Linked DNA regions of Homo sapiens: region 1 is linked to region 2. Evidence: fine-mapped QTL for protein levels in blood plasma. Region 2 holds a variant in brackets. A gene starts in the other region. All regions are shown on their forward strands. Region 1 holds the start of CCDC50 (coiled-coil domain containing 50). Region 2 has its middle 150 kb from the start of MIR5195.

What was found. PIP is the chance, under the fine-mapping model, that this variant and not a neighbour inherited with it causes the effect. The UK Biobank Pharma Proteomics Project read protein levels with antibody pairs (Olink). The fine-mapping took linkage between variants from a reference panel, not from the people measured, so its PIPs are less certain.
Region 1: it holds the start of CCDC50, and the variant in region 2 is fine-mapped to the plasma level of the CCDC50 protein (UK Biobank, PIP above 0.99).

The regions. Positions count from the first base shown.
Region 1 is chr3:191,325,283-191,333,622 of GRCh38, forward strand. It overlaps CCDC50 (coiled-coil domain containing 50), which reads left to right and starts at 4,112. Exons shown (of 12, transcript NM_178335.3): 1 at 4,112-4,441. The coding sequence starts at 4,393. UTS2B (urotensin 2B) reads right to left here and starts at 5,244. Exons shown (of 9, transcript NM_198152.5): 1 at 5,132-5,244; 2 at 3,349-3,427. RefSeq lists enhancers at 3,679-4,280, 4,281-4,881 and silencers at 3,808-3,887, 3,988-4,267.
Region 2 is chr14:106,697,066-106,705,405 of GRCh38, forward strand. It overlaps IGH and the pseudogene IGHV1-68. Among named protein-coding and RNA genes, the nearest start is that of MIR5195, 150 kb to the right of the region's middle. The variant A/AT (reference allele first, on the strand shown) is at 4,478.

The sequences.
Region 1 (8,340 bases), not on the chromosome of region 2:
GTTGAAAATATTTAAAAATAGGAAAGACATATGTTCTAAAAAAGGCAATAAGATAAAAACCATGGCACCTCCAGGTCCAATGGGGTCTAGGGTATGTTAGAAGAAACAGCCTCTAATTTAGAGGGCTCTTGGAAGAGCAATGTCCCCAGGTGACCCCTGAGTTCCAGTAGGAAAAGAAGGGAAAGGGAATAGTTACAAAGGAGATATGGGGAATTTTGTGAGTAACTGATAGTGAATTCCATAGGGTGAGGGGACTTGAGCAACTGAGGAAAGTTGAGAGCATGAATAGGGTTGGGGAACTTACATATGTTATGAGAGTCCAGACAAAAATGCTTCAAGGCCTGGAGTAAAGAGGCCTAAACTGTACGGTTGGATTATTGTCCTAATAGTCTCTACTATGGGCTGAATTATCTGTCCCTAAGATTCACATGTTGAAGCCCTAGCCTCCAGTAATTCAGAGGGACTGCACTGCAGACAGGGTCTTTAAGGAAGACATTTGGGTTAGCCCTAATCCAATCTGCAAACTAAAAAGAGGGATTTCAGAAGAAACCAAATGTTCTGACACCTTGCTCTTGGACTTCTAGCCTCCAGAACTGTGAAAAACATATATAATAATTTCTGTTATTTAAGCCATTCAGTCTGTGGTATTTTGTTATGGCAACCTTAGAATATTCATACAGTCTTCTTGGTGAAAGTGAATAACAGTTCTAATTGCATCCTCATTTTTGGAACTGTTCTCTTAGGTATATTATGCTGATGAGCTAGGAAGCACTGGGGGCCAAGGAGACAGATAATTCTTTCCAGAAGTATAGTTCTGTGGGTCCCCTTTCCTGTTTTGCCAAGGTCCAGTGTAATTTATTCATTTGCCTATATTGTTTTTTTAACTTACTTTTAATTTGTGATTCTTACTGATAATAAAATTGGATAACTATATTTATTTATTTATGCAACAAATATTTATTGAGTGCCTATTATGTGCCAAGCACTTTTCTAGATACGCGGATATTAGGGAATCAAACAGATAAACCCCTGCCCTCACAGAGCTTACCTTCTAGTAAGGTAAGCTCTAACTGGGGGATGCTTTTGTGGAATTTGGTAGTTTTCAAACTGGAGTTTTCATTTCTTATGACCAAAGTCTCCCTACTCCAATCCAAGCATTTTATTGTTACCAAATTCACTTTATAAAAGTAGAAAATGTATCATGTAATATCCACCTAGAAAAAAAAATCAATTGATGCCTCCATATTGCCTTATAAATAAAATCCTTATTTCTCTCTATGGCATTCAAGTTGTGATTTGATGCTGAATTACTTGTTTGGCATCTGCCCCAAATTAGGGATCTGTATCCATCCTGAGAAGCCTTATGCTTTCTCTTTTATTGCAAAATGGACATTTCAGGACACCAAAAGATGTAAACTTGTTACAGAAATTCACCATATGTTCATTCCCTATAAATACTCAAAAGATACTAGCTCTTCCCCGTGTTACTGTCAGTCCTTTGCTAGAAGTTGCCTACTCTGTAATGCTGAGCTCTAATTGTTTGCTCAGCTTGGGGACCTATACAGAACAGGTGTGGAGTAGGAGAAGGAAAGCCCAACTATGGGGTGGATTTCCAGGTCATCTGCTCTAGTACCTGAAAAGGGCTCCTGGTTTTCATTACTTTTTCTGCTGAAAGCAGCCGATTCTCTAAACAATAGTTGTGGCTATTATATATGTTTCCATTTCTTCTCTAGGCCAGAAATGTGGATATTTTTATGCATATCTTACTGTAAGCACATCATATTTTAAGCATATCTTACTTTTGGCATATCTTACTGTAACAGTCACAGTCTAGGTAGGAAACAGGAGGTGCACTGTAAGTGATTTTACTGAAAAGAATGTAATGAAGAGACAATTTCAGAGGTATTAACTGGGTTAAGAGAACTAGGGGAGGCCGGGCGTGGTGGCTCGTGCCTGTAATCCCAGCACTTTGGGAGGCCGAGGTGGGCGGATCACTTGAGGCCAGGAGTTCCAGACCAGCCTGGCCAACATGCCAAAACCCTGCCTCTACTAAAAATACAAAAGATTAGCCAGGCGTTGTGGTGCACACCTGTAATCCCAGCTACTCGGGAGGCTGAGGCACGAGAATCACTGGAACCTGGGAGGCAGAAGTTGCAGTGAGCCAAAAGGAACTAGGGGAAGCCATCACACTCTAGGCCTGAAGGGACACTGGAAACAAATTGTTTTATTAGAGACCCATGAGAGCTGAGGCCATGGAAAAGAGGCCTCTACACAGGCCCTGTAGTCATAGAGGGACAGGACTGTGGCCAAAATTTTGGGTTAAAGGAAAGAAGAATACTCTGATATTTCTCTCCTCCCTTCTTTTGATTTTCTGCCAGTGCTTCCCATTGGTCAATCACAACAGGAAGCCACAGGTCAAAGGGGCCTAGTGATTTATCTGTAGGCATCCAAAGGCACGGCTTGGTAGAGAAGTAGAAACGATAGATTTGGGGAGGGAAACAGAAAATACTGCTGTTATAAATATTCTCTAGACCACAGGAAGTTAAAAAAAATTACTAGATTACAGGACAATTAAAAAATTCCCATAAATCTACCTTTCTAATACCACTTCCTTCTTATTCCCACATTTAACCTGCTGAGTGTTATCTCTGCCTAGCACTGGGGTGGGTAAACTTTTCCTGTAAAGCATATTTTAGACTTTGAGGCTTAAGAGGCAAGGTCGAAAATATTATGTCCTATTTATGTAGTGATTTGAAATGTAATTATTTGAACATATAAAAAACAGTCATTCAAATTCAGTGGCGTAGATTTGGCCTGTGGGCTATACTTTGCTACCCTCTGGCCTTGAAAGTCTTCTAAATTTTTGCTAGCCTAAAATCCACCTACTTTTCAATGTCAAGTTCAAATAAAACCTCCCCTACGTGGCCTCTCATACTGGGACTCTGAGCTGTGAGTGACAGAAAATCAACTATTACTAGCTTAAGCAAAACTGAGGATAAGTTGAGAGTTTGCGGGTTGTAGATCCCAGAATCCAGGAGTTGCTGAAATGCCAGCTGCTCTGGGGATATCCTGCTTTGCTACTGTGGTAACATCAGAACATGCCCTCTTCATCTCCCTTTCTCTTCTCTTTGCTTCTGTCTTCAGTTTGGCCTCATCATCTCCTAGAGGCAGATCTTTTCCACAAGAAACAGAATATGTAACTCTTTATGTACCCAGGAAAGTATTCTGTTTGACCTGTCTTGGTCACCCAGCCACCCTTCGATGAACCCATGTCGGTGGAGGAAGGGGGAAGAGTGATGGGGTAGTCTCGAGGTTCAGACATGGCACACGTTTGGGAGAGAAGCTCACCTCTGAGGAGTGGGGAAAGAGGCAGTTTCCCAAAAGGAGGATGCATTCTGTTGCCAGGAGATGAAACAGGAGAGGTTGTCTATTTTAGAGAGATAGAAATGTCACAATTACAATCCAATGTGTGCAGCGCTATAACAGAGATAAGTCTGACGCCTCGTTATCACCCACAGTACCTAACATCACACTTGGTAGACACATTCATGCGATTTTGATGAATGAATGACTCAGTTCTCCCAGCTGATTGTGTACACACTCTACTCCAAACTGGCCCAGAATTTTATCAGCTGCTCTTCATTCTGTACGTTGTATTTGGGGTTTTTATGGCCATCTACCATCTCTCCTCTAATTCCGGGTGCAAAAAGAGTGTATGAGAGAGAGGCAAGCATGCAGTAAACATCCTGTGTTAATCTCAATCCCAGAACCAGACCACAGAATGCTGACTACACCGCTCACGGGAAAGACTATGTTTTAGGTGACCCGTGTGGCCTTTTTGTTGAGGCCTTTAGGATACAAGGCCCCCACCTAAAGACGCGACCCTCCCGTAGGAGGGGGGCAGGGCCCGGGGGCGGGAGCACAGCGGGGCCCCAGCCTCAGGCGGCGCGTCACTGAGCACAAAGGAGACAACAGCGAGGCGGCAGCGGGCGCTGATCTTCGCTCGCCAGCCACTCGCAATTGCGGTTACAGACCTGCAGCTCCCCCTCCCCCAGCCGGCCCGCCCGCCTTTCTGTCTCCTCTCTCCCTCCGTACTGGACGGCCCCGGTCCATTTCCGGGCTCCGGATATTTGGTATCGATTGGGGCCGGGGACGCGGAGCAGGTGGCCGCGGCGGGGCAGCTGGGCCGCCAGCTTGGTGCCTCGGGGACCGTCTCCCGCTGCTTTGGTCACCAGCCCCTGCCCGCCCGACCCGCTCCGTTCTCCGGCCTGCGAGCCCTGCCGGCCGGACTTTGCGCCGCGTCCGGCGCTGCTGCTGCGCTCGGGGCCCCGCTCGGCGCCGGCGGTGACCGGGAAGCCCGCGTTAAAGGGGCAACCGGGACCCTGGCCCGGTATGGCTGAAGTCAGCATCGACCAGTCCAAGCTGCCTGGAGTCAAGGAAGGTAAGGGCCCCGGAGGGAGAGCGCGCGGGACCCTCCCCTCTCCCAGCCCGAGGTTCTCTCAGGTCAGGGGCGTTGCCATTTCGGCTCCCGCGGCCCTCGCCCGGTGCCCGCCCTGCGTTGGCCTTGCCCGGACGTGAAAGGAATTGAATTCAGGTTCTAGTGTGGGACGTTGGGCAAGTCTCCGACGTTCCAAGCCCGTTTTTTCTCAAGGGGGTGGTTGGGGGGGGGGGGGGCTAGCAGCAGCCCCAGCAAGTAGGTGGCTGTGCCCGTGTTCTCGTGCATCGCAAAGCCTCAGTGGACGCTGAGAGCCGGGTGAATCTGACTTACTCCGCTTCTAAAAAATCGAGGCCCAGCCTGGCTGGCTTGAAGGCTGGGAAGTGGAGAGGGGTTGACATTCAGTTCCGTGTGGAGCCTTTGTTTTGAAACATGACTCTTTCCCTCCTTCTCTCCCTACTTTTCCTAGGCCGGCGTCTGGCTGGCTGACTTTCCCACCTTCCTCAAGGTTTAAAAGTTTAGTCTTGGCTGTGTTCTGCGCGGGCGGGAAGCCACTATAAGCATTTTCTTACAAACAAAACACACACACACACACACACACACACACACACAATAGTGAGCGAGGGGAACAGGGGACTGATGGCCTTGTCATTGCTTTTTGTACCAATGTCCAGGAAAGTAGAGATTAGTACTGACCTGGCTTTAGCTGACAGCAAGTAGCCTTTTGACTTCCCTTCTCTTGTTTTTCCACTAGCTGCCTCAGGACCTAGCTTTTTTTTGCTGAGATCTTAGGTGCTGGATCGCCTTATGCCTTGAGTTATCTTTGTTTATTCTTTGGTCCTAGGAAGCATAGACGTTCCAGAGTGCTGACGCAGACCCCTAAGTTCCAAGGGCTTTGCAAAATCGGCTTCTGTTGTGAATGTCATTTGTATCGATTGAATACTGTAGCCTGAGGCGTCTTGGAGATGTGGAATTGAAAATAGTTTTTGCTTTCTTGGAACCGCTTGTTTTATTGCCAACTTAATTTGACTCCGTTGGTCTTGTGTGTGCTCAGGCCAGCCCAAAAATCTCAGGAAAATGAGGGACTGCTTGATTGCTTTCTCAGAGTTTCAAGCACTAGGAGACTAGTGACTAGTGGTCACTGATTTTATGTAGAATTTCTGATGGGCCTAGTTCTGTCTTACTGTTCCGGAAGGGTGTTAAAGCTTAGGCGTGAGATTTTAGCGTTAATACTTTTCTACCTTTCCGTCCCTGGTATGGCTTTGATGAAGACTTAGGGCTTTCACCTGTAGAAAACAGTTTTCACTCTGCTGTCAAGACTAAGGAGGCTGAGCGATAGGAAAGGCGGATCCATACTTTTGAGAGTTCTTATCTTAGAGATTGTCTGGTTATCCTTTACTTTTGGATATGAGGGTTTTTTGTGTGGGTATGTGTTGGGTTTGTCTCTAGAGAAAGAGTGATCCTTGTGCAGTGTGTAGTGCATGGTGAGTAGAATGAGAATTGGAGTTCAAACAAAACCTGGTATGTATAGTATTAATCATATGGTGCTATGATTTTATCCAATCCCCTATTCATGTGAGTGAAAAAACATAAAACTCTTCATATACATTTATATTACCCTTAGGTCTTCTGATTTCGTACCAAGACATGAATGATGTATTCTAACATATTATTTCTCAAGGAGTTCCACAAACACCTTCCATATAAAAATGCAAGATTTTTCCATTTCCACACTCTAGAGTCTAATACATTTAAATTAGCTTTCATTTTGCGTAATACGGTGTTTGGCAATCTCTTTTATGTAATCTGGTAAATTGGTAAGAAAATTCAGTGTGGCTCTTTCATTAAGTTACAATTAAATATTAATTTTGAAGGTGGTCAGGAATCGATGAGATCACTGTCTTTGTAAACATCTGACTTTTCTAGTTCCAAGATCATCAAAGGAAGTGATGTATTATACTAGGAATGTCCTACTAATGGTGGTGAAGTTTTTGATCTGAGAAGTATTCAAGTCTAATAAAGTGTATCCTTCCCTAATATAACTCTTAATTATGGCCCAGTTACTCCCTAACAGTGTCTTTATCCTAATTAAAGAGAATGAAGCTTGTGCCCCTGATAGGGTAAAACATGTGCAAACATTGAGACTGTGGTAATATTGAAACTCCAACTTCATTTGAGAAGGGTTAGTAGTAGTAATTAGTTTAATATTCTGATGCAGATTTTTGAACCCCATTCAAAAAAATCCCTGTATCTGTCTCCTCTACTTTTTAATTTAAACTTTTGATAGATATATATGCAGTTACAATTTATATTCAATTTGGTATCATGGGGTAGATTCCAATAGAGATTAAGAAGAATAGTGCAGTGAGTGTGTGCCCGTTTCCATTGCTGTTTAGGAGGGGATGGGGCACCCTGTGACCTTTTGTCGTGAACATTTCAATAGAGGTCGTGGGTAGCAGCTGACATTAGGGTAAGGGGATATTTAAAAATCTTCTTTCCTAGGTTGAAATCTAATGCTTGCTTACTTAGTTTTTAAGGAAGTCAAAAATATTCATCATTTGGACAGACCTTTTGAAAAAACACACACACATACACCTATGGTAGTATTTATACCTTGGTAAATCTCTTAAACTGGGAGACAAAGGGAAATGATTGAGTTCATATGTAGGTGAAAAGAATCAAGTCAACTAAGTGTCAACACATCATTTTTTCTGGTTAAAAGTGTGTTTGGAACATCTGTATACTTTTTGTAATGGAAAACGCTGTTGCCAATATTCAGGAATAATACTCTATTTCTTCTGAAACATTTGAGGTTCTAGATTTGAAATAATTTCCAGCCATTTTAAACTTCAGTAGGTCTATAACTGAAATGCAAAATGCAATTTGCGAATGTTAGGGAAAGGAACAGGCATGTTTCAACAATATTCTGAAAGTTTCTTGGAGTTCAGAGCTGGAAACATATTTTTGTAAAAAACTTTTAATCAGTTGACAAACTTACATTTTTCAGGGGGTCAGTTTTAGCTTCTTCATTGAATTTTTCTTTTCTGAACCAGCAATCAAGACTCCCTACTTCCTTTTGCTCTCCAAGTTCCTGTATCGGTAAATGAATTGTCCACTTGCTGTAATTTTGCCATTTAGCCCTCTCTAACCAAGATGTTGATCGAGGCCTTTCTAGACATTTTGGCGTTTCATCAACTTCTTTGCAATTTCTTAAGCATTAGAGCTTTACCACTTTTAGCCATGCAGTGCATGCTTTCAACCTCTCCTATTTTCTCCAAGTGTTAATCTTTATTTTTCTTTCCTTACAGCAGTTCTCTCAATCTCATTTTTATGTTCAATTCTTACATTCTTTAGGTGGAAAGTTCCACTGTCTCAAAGTTGGTGAATTCTGTGTGTGTTGGTGTGCATGTGTGTGCTTAACATCTGAAATCAGTTTACCTAGGAGTGACTTACTTCTTGAAGTACAGGTAGCTAGCTATTCTGGGAGCAAATCCTTTTTCTTTAGTGAAAGATACAATTTAATACATTTTTAGAAATGTCTGTAAAAGGAAACATACCTAGAAAGCACTGATTTATTTTAGGTTCAGGGCACTCCAGTGGCATAATGTGTTAAATTAAGTTAATGGCGTACATCCAGACCTTCAAGGGGGAAAGATATAAAATTATGTCTGGTACCATCAGTGAACCCAGTAGTCTAAGAAATTTAGAGCTTATCACATGCACACTAGGCATCTAAACAGATGGCAGTGTCCATGAGATGTACATATATCTGGCTACACGGCAAACCCACTTTCCCTGTTTTTCAAAATTCCATAACAGTTTTTGTTTTGGTTGTTGGTTTTTAATGAGACCCTGGCTGGATCTCTTGGAGCTAGGAGGTTTATGTCTTAGTTATCTTGCTGTAC
Region 2 (8,340 bases):
AATAAAATTACATATGGTGGAATGGGGTTTCTCACTTTGCAGTGGGTGGTTATGGAAACGCAAAGAAAGAAGACTAGAAAGGTTCATGTGCTAACATAGTTGGGTGGAGAGACCAGTGTGTTCTCATTTTTAATGTGATATGGTTACAGAAGATTAGATACATAAATAGTTTCAATGAGTCCATAAACTTGGGTTCACATAAACATGCACGTTTACTGGGACCATTGTTTGAGAGGTTCTAGAAGTACTCATACCACATTAACAACACACAGAGCCAGTATCACAATGTTTTATTTTAATACTATTCTTTAACATCAGAAACATGCAATCTTTATAAAAGTGGTTGATTCTATGTAAAAAAAGGTAATAAAGAAAACAAGCTTAGAATTTATGGTAATACCAGGAAATACGCAAGTGTTCAAAAACAAAAATATGAGGTGTGCTGTAAGGATGCAGGATTCAAACAAAATGAGCTCCCAGCACCTAATAAAGCTGTGGTGCTTTGAACAATTAAATGAATGATGTAGCATGGATCTTTTTCAAAGTATAAAATGGACATCCATCAACCAATACTGATATTAATAGATGATTAATTAAAAAATAATAGGAAGAAGAACACATCTCCTTACAGAAGTATTCCAAATACATTAGATTGATGGTCCTCCAATCAAGCAGGTGAAGTTTAAACACTCATGAGTTGATTGTGGCCTGAGATTAGAGATATGGAAAAAATAATGACTATTAGTTTATTTTATAATGAAACTTCAGATATAATGCCAAAGGCATGATCTATGAATGAATAAAATTATATATGTTTTCAATCTAAATTTGTACAAACACACACACACACAAACACACACATTTTTCTGCGATACCTACTGATAAGGGAGTAAAAGGCAACCACAGACTTGGAGAAAATACTTCCTGTGGGGTTCAGTCAGGCTCGTGGGAAAAATTTTAGTTATAATAGCCACAAGTCCTCGTGGAAGGCTTGAGAGATTGCATAACTTCAGTAATAAATCTGGCTGAAGGCAGCCTAGTCCCCTTACCTTTAGTTTAGTAAATTTGAGTAGAAACAAAAGAATGTGGGGAGTTTATCTAACTAGCTTGTTCACTCATGTGGTCCTAAGACTCACCTTTGATCTACCTGGATGGTCAGTCAAGCTGGCAAAGCAGAATATCTGTGTGTCAGTGTACTTTATTCACCCGTTGTTGTGTCAGGACCTGCAGGACAGACCCCCACAGCCGGTGCCCCATGTGAGGATCGCTGCAAAGGGAGCGTGACAGACCCCATGAAAACGAAGGTTGAGGAAGACTGCGTGGTCAAGTCAGTAAAACAGTAAGTCATTGGTGCCCACTTGGGATCTCCAAGTTCAGGGGAGATTGTTCAGGCTGAGATTTCATCATGGGACAGCAGTTATCAGCTCAACACAAACAGCATATGAAAGTATTGTAACAGTTGCTTAAGGCTAGGGGAGCATCAGTTTCGCAGGCTCAATTAAGGCACCTAATGAAAACTGTTGTCTCACATAATCTGTGGTCCCAGAAGAAGGAAAGCTAGAAGTAAAGCTCTGGGAACAAGTAGGGAGAAATCTTGAACAGCATTACACACAAGCGCAACGGGTCCCAGCATCATCTTTAACACTATGGGCTTTAGTAGGGATGGCTTTAGTCCCATTATACAAAGAAGAACCCAAAAAGGGGAAGGAGGAAGAAACGTCACTTGCCTTACCACCTGCTCTTCCCAAAATAACAAAGAGGAAACGGAGGTTTTGCCTGAGCCCCCTCTTTCAATAGATAGAAAAAATAGAGGAAATACACTACAGCTATATGTCCCTGTCTTCGACAAGCAGCATTAAAAGGGGAGCTCTTAGACTGCCCAGTAATGCAAGATCAGCAAGGCAATCAGGTACACGAAGGGTTAAGAAAAGGCATTAGGGGCAGGAGCAAGTGCAGGAAGCTCCCCTCTGCCGGCAGCAGCTGCTGAGCAGTGTGGGGAGGGAGCTGGCACAGAGGAAACGCGGTGGCGAAAAGTGGCTTCTAAGCAAGCACAAAGCCGCAGCCGCCCTGGGACCCACCTGCTCCGCTCTCTGGCTCCGCAGGCGGCCCAAAGCAAAATTTGTTATGTTCTTTGTATACAAGCGACATCCCAGATTATAATTCTATGATAAGAGTTAAGTAAAATTTAAGAATTTGAGAAACCTCTTTCTAATAATGGCCACTGTTATCTCTCTCTTATTCCTAACATGACTCCAAATCCAGTTTAAGTAAAACAGTAACCTCTAAAGGGAGAGACATTACAAAAAGCCCCTAAGTTAGTTAGGGAGCAATTAAAAGCAAGCTTTGCTCCCTAGTAGGAAAAAGTTTCCTGGCTACAAGATTATTCATTTTATGGGTAATATTCTACTAACAGCCCTTAGAATTTACCCATTTTCATCATTCCCAAAAGGCCTAGTTAATGTGTTACCTACAAAAATAGTTTACTCCCCCATATTTAATGCTTTAGCACTGTTTACTGATAGATCTGGTAAATATGGAAAAGCAGCAGTCTGGTGGACACCACACAATTCATTCACTCAATCTGGGTTTACTAGCACTCAGAAAGCTAAAGTTGAGTCCTTAATATTGGGTCTAGAGAACTTTTACAGCCCTAATTAAGTCAACTCTGGAGCCAGCCCTGTGGACTCTTTTTCTCTGATTTCAGCAATTGCTAAATCAAAGTACACATCCTATTTTATTACACACATTCCAGCCCACAGCTCACTGCCTGGTCCATTAGCTTATGACAATAATCAAGCCAACCTTCAAGTTATGATATCGCTGCTTGACCAAGCCACCCAATTGCACCAATTTTTCCACCAAAATTGGAAAAACTTATCTAAACAATTCCAACTTATATAGAGACTGGCTAAACAGTCTCTGAGATCGCCAGCTCAACTTATACAGAGACTGGCTAAACAGTCTCTGAGATCGCCAGCTCACAGGCACGTCTCCTCCTTCAACAGGTATTAACCCTAGAACCTAATCTGTTGTGGCAAACAGATGTTACACACATCCCTGAATTTGGAAAACTTAGATAGGTACATGTATCCTTTGATATCAACACTCATTTAAGTAGTGCACATACTCCGCCTGGAGAGTTTACTCGATATGTCATTAAACATCTTCTTTTATCTTTTGCATTTATGGAACAACCCGCAAAAATTAAGACTGATAATTGTCCAGGTTAGGCCAGCTCACAATTTCAACAATTTTGTCACACGTGGAATATCCGACATTCCTCAGGTATCCCATATAAACCCCAAGGACAAGCAATAGTAGAACTTGCCAACTCCACCCTTAAAATATGCACAAAAAACAAAAACAGGGGAGTATGGGTACAGACCCTGCAACACTTTTGGCACAAACCTTATTTTTTTAATTTAGAAGACAAATTTGAATCCGCTGTAGAAAAGCACTTTGCTAAAATTTCCCAATACATGAAACCTGCAGTTTTATGGAAAGATGTAAACAGTAATGAATGGTGTGGTCCAAGTGAATTATTAATGTGGGGAAGAGGGTACGCTTGTATCCACACCCCCTCGGGTCGTCTTTGGGTTCCAGCACGACGCATCAAACCATACCAGGACATTGCTAGGACCCAACCCAGTACCAGAAATGAAGGAGTTAACCCTACAAGACCTACAGCCCCGGACGATGCAGCTTCTGTGAACAACACAATCCCCAGACATTACCTGGGGGGTACTGAAAAGGACAACTCAGGAGGCTGAACGAATCCTGCTCCAAATGCAGACACCATTTACTCCAGATAATGTGTTTGGTGCTATGATTTCTGTTGTACATTGCAACTCATGTAGGGTATTAATCCTTTTTATGCTCTCACTTTGTCTGCAACCTGTACCTGCTACACTCTATTGGGCCTCTATCTTAGACACACCTTTCTTTCACCCTGCCAAATGGGAAGACACTCCCTTCCCAGCCTATAGTAACGTGACTGCTTGGCTAGGAGGGATAGATTTACCCCACGTGGGGTCCCTCAATAATGGCACACAATGGACTAAGGTGGCAGATAACACTATATGTCAATCCACTATTATCCTCCCAGTGTGTGTAAGTTATAAAGACTCTAACCCTTACTGTGTACCTGCCCAAAAACAAGTATGGTTACATCATAGCAAAGGAAATGCCTTAACATTCTTAGCTGCAGATAGCCTCAAACTGAGCAATGCAATCCATGCCGCTGCTTCTTTCCCAAACATTCCTTCCTGTGCTAAGGAACAAAGCTGGGACAGTAATCGGTTCGACTTTAGCTGGGAGGTCTGTCATGGGAGACGAGCCCATAGCCTCCAGTTAGGTAATTATAACATCTTAGACTGGAGTCCCAGCGGCTGATTGCAGGGCAGCCTTACTAATACCTTCATCCATCAGAGCATCAATCAGTTTCATAGCCATGTCTTTTCCCCTATAATTTGTGCCA[A/AT]GGGGGGATGGCATATCCAAGGCCCCAAGTAAAGTCCATGCCGCCCCAAGGTACTTTATGGTGTCTGGGACATCTTAGCACCTCCCTTAACACCTGGCATGGGACATACCATATTTCCCGTTGCAACTATGCTATAAGCTTTATTCATAATCACACTGATCAGTGCCTAATTTGCACTACCCATCCATACGATTTCCTTATGGGAACTAACATTTCCATTACACCTCAAAACTCCACGTTTGTGACCTGGATGCAGGGACAGGCTTGGTTTGCCTCATGTATCACTAATCACAGTATATCTAACTTAAAAATTACTAGCGCCATGGTATTAAAGAGAAAATCTGAGGCATTCTTACCAGTCAATCTGGCATGCAATTGGCAAGGTTCCTATGCCCTTGCAACCTTAGAACGTGCCCTGTCCCAGGTCAGACACAAAAGATTCATAGTTACACTTATGGCCTTTATAGTCTCAGCCATAGTCATCCTGGCAACAGCTAGTGTTGCTGTTGCATGTATTATTGACTTAGTGTAAACTGCTGCCTTTTTAGATAATCTGGCCAAAAATGTGTCTAATGAACTTCTCTTACAGCAAGGTATAGATCAAAAAATTATCACACGTCTGCTAGCCCTTGAGGCTGCTTTAGAATATGTCAGGGAGCGACAAGATGCAGTGGCATTCTGACAGCATTTAAACTGTGACTGGGAACATGAACATATCTGTATCACTTCTCTACCACGGAATCTATCAATACATAGTTAGGATGAGGTAAAACAATACCTCTGGGGAACCTTTCATGACAATTTAACAGCAGACGTAAAGTAAGTTCAAACTAAAATTTTAGAATCTCTTCACGCAATAGATCTACACCCCCAACAAACAGTCATATGGAAGGGTGTGTGAGATCATCTCTCCTGGTTAGACCCCGCTCCTGGGGGTCACTCTGACTGGAAAAGAATGTTGCTAATTCTACTCATGATTGTTTTATGTTATTTGCTAATTCTAGGATGCAAAGCCAGAATAAGAGCAATGACTGCCACACCTGACAGACATGTTGCTGCGCATATCTGCACGCTCCAATCCAAAAGACCTGATGTAGAAAACAAAAAATGGGGAGATGTGGTGGTCCAGTCAGGCTGGTGGGAAACATTTTAGTTCTAATAGCCACAAACCCTCTTGGAAGGCCTGTGAGTTTGCATAACTTTGGTAATAAATCTGGCTGAAGGCAGCCTAGTCCCCTTACCTTTAGTTACATAAAGTAGAGTAGAAACAAAGGAATGTGAGGAGCTTATCTAACTAGCTTGTTTACTCATGTGTTCCTAAGACTAACCTTTGATCTACCGCGGGTGCTTAATTGCTTTCCACTCAAGAGGTCCACAATGTCAATTACCTTCTAGTGGTGTTTACTCACGGCCTTTGTCAATTAATCTTTACTGAATAAATGTAAGTCTCCCTGACTGATCGAGGCGGTGGCTGTGACTAAGTGGCCCAGATGCTCAGTCGAGCTGGCAAAGCAGAATATCTTTGTGTCAGTGCACTTTATTCATTCGTCATTGTGTCAGGGTGTGCAGGACAAACCCCTGCAACTTCCAAGTCACATATTTGTTAAATGAATTCTTTTAATTTGTTAATTAACTTTTATAATCAATATGCAAGTAAACTTACAACTAATCAAAAGAAAACAGTGCTATTGAAAATGAACCAAATATCAGGAGAGGCATCTCACCAAAAATTATATGAAAATTGTTAAATATGAATTTTATTAGGGGCATGTGCATTTAAGCAAAAATTAGATACCATTACTCACCTATTATAATGGTTAAAACACACAATTCTCATAATGATAAATGGTAATATAATGTGGAAACCCAAGAACAATCATTCATTGATGGTGGGAATTCAAAGAGGTACATGGTCAAAATGAGACTCTTTTTGGCATTTTTTATAGAGACAAAAGTAGAGTTAAAATGTGATCTTGTGTCTGTGTTCCAAAACATTTACAACACTGATTCAGAAATTGATGTTTACAAAGATACCTTCAGAGGAATTTCTATGTCAGCTTTATTAATTTGATTAATTCTCCAATCCCTAGAATTTGCTTACAGAATAAATGTTGCATAAGAAATCTCTCAAATAATTACAATTTCTCAAATACACATTTATATTGTTCCTTTTCGTAAATGACTTAATGCTATTTTCTAAGAAAGTCTTCAATCTAATAATCTTTGTCATCTCCTCCATGCCAGCACAGCTGCCTCCTCCCTGGGGTTCCTGACTCTCTCAGGATGTGGGTTCTCGCACCGTGTATCTTGCCCAGTAATACACAGCCGAGTCCTCAGATCTCAGGCTGCTCAGCTCTATGTAGGCTGTCCTCAGGGACATGTCCCTGGTAATGGTGACTCTGCCCTGGAACTTCTTTGCATAGTTGGTGTTACCATTGTAAAGTGTGATCCATCTCATCCTTTCAAGCCCTTGTCCAGGGGCCTGTTGCAACCAGTGCAAGGAGCAGCAAGTGAAGGTGTATCCGGAAGCCTTGCAGGAGACCTTCACTGAGGCCCCAGGCTTCTTTACCTCAGCCTCAGACTGCCCCAGCTGCACCTGGGAGCAGACACCCATTGGAGGGTGGGACACAGGAGTGGATGAAAGCCTCCTTGACTGTACTCAATCCCCTTCTCATCACTGGGACTTGGGAGCACCTTACCTGTAGCTGCTGCCACCAGGAAGATTAGCTCTAGGTCCTGTCCATGGTGAGGAGCCATGCTCTCGGGGGATTCTCTAGAGGCGGGATGTGATTGTTGGGTGAAGCTCTCAGGGCACAGACCATATTTACCTCAGTGGATCTCAGGTATTTACATATTCATGAGACAGGGCATTTCATAGCTCAAAGCCTGATCCATGATAAGAAAGGGAAGACAAATGACACATCAGCCTTGCAAGAGTGAGATGCTGATGGTCCAAGCCCTAATCCTGCTTGAGGAAATGCATGCCCCTGTCCATTTAGGAATATTTGTGGACAGAGGTCCTTTCACTGAAGAAGAAGCCCCCTCAGAACGGCCTCTCACTGTGAAACTACATTAGATTAGCACAGAGACCACTTGGATCATTCTGGGGACCATCTCGGTCCATGACACAGAGCAGGTGCCTTGGCCCTATGCTGGACCCGTCAGACACCAGCACAGCTCACTGATGACTCTGAGCAAGTGACGCTGATGTCCCACGTGAGTGGCCAGCACGTTCCTCTGAGATCCCTGGGGCGCTCCTGAGACAGTTTCTCCAGCACCTTCCTGGTGTCCTGATTCCCCAGGATCGTCAACAGAAAAACTCTTAGTTTACAGATTTGCCCTGTGATGCATAATTGGAGATGATTTTCTTATGTCATGGACACTAGGATTCAGAAGTTGAAACAGGAGTTAGGAGTTCTTTATGAACTCATGCTCCCATAATAATTTCAAGGGAATTTGTGTTTTGGATAAGTTTGGGTTTTATTTCCTACTGGATTTATTAGAATTTCATGAACTGTTTACATACTTTCAGTTCATGTGCATAGATCCTCATCTTTACATGCTGATTTCTGACTCACTCTCAGATCCACACTCTCGGATCCACCACTGCCCTGTCACTCACACAATGTAGGCAACTTTACTTAACACTGAAATCTGAATTTTTTTTTTGGAGATGGAATCTCGCTTTGTTGCCCAAGCTGGAGTGCAGTGGCACAATCTCAGCTCACTGCAAACTCTGCTTCCCACGATCACTGACAGCAGCATTGTCTGAGGCTGTAGGTCTTGTAGGATTAAATCTCCTGCCTCAGCCTCCCGAGTAGCTGGGACTACAGGTTCATGCCACCCCACCTGGCTAATTTTTT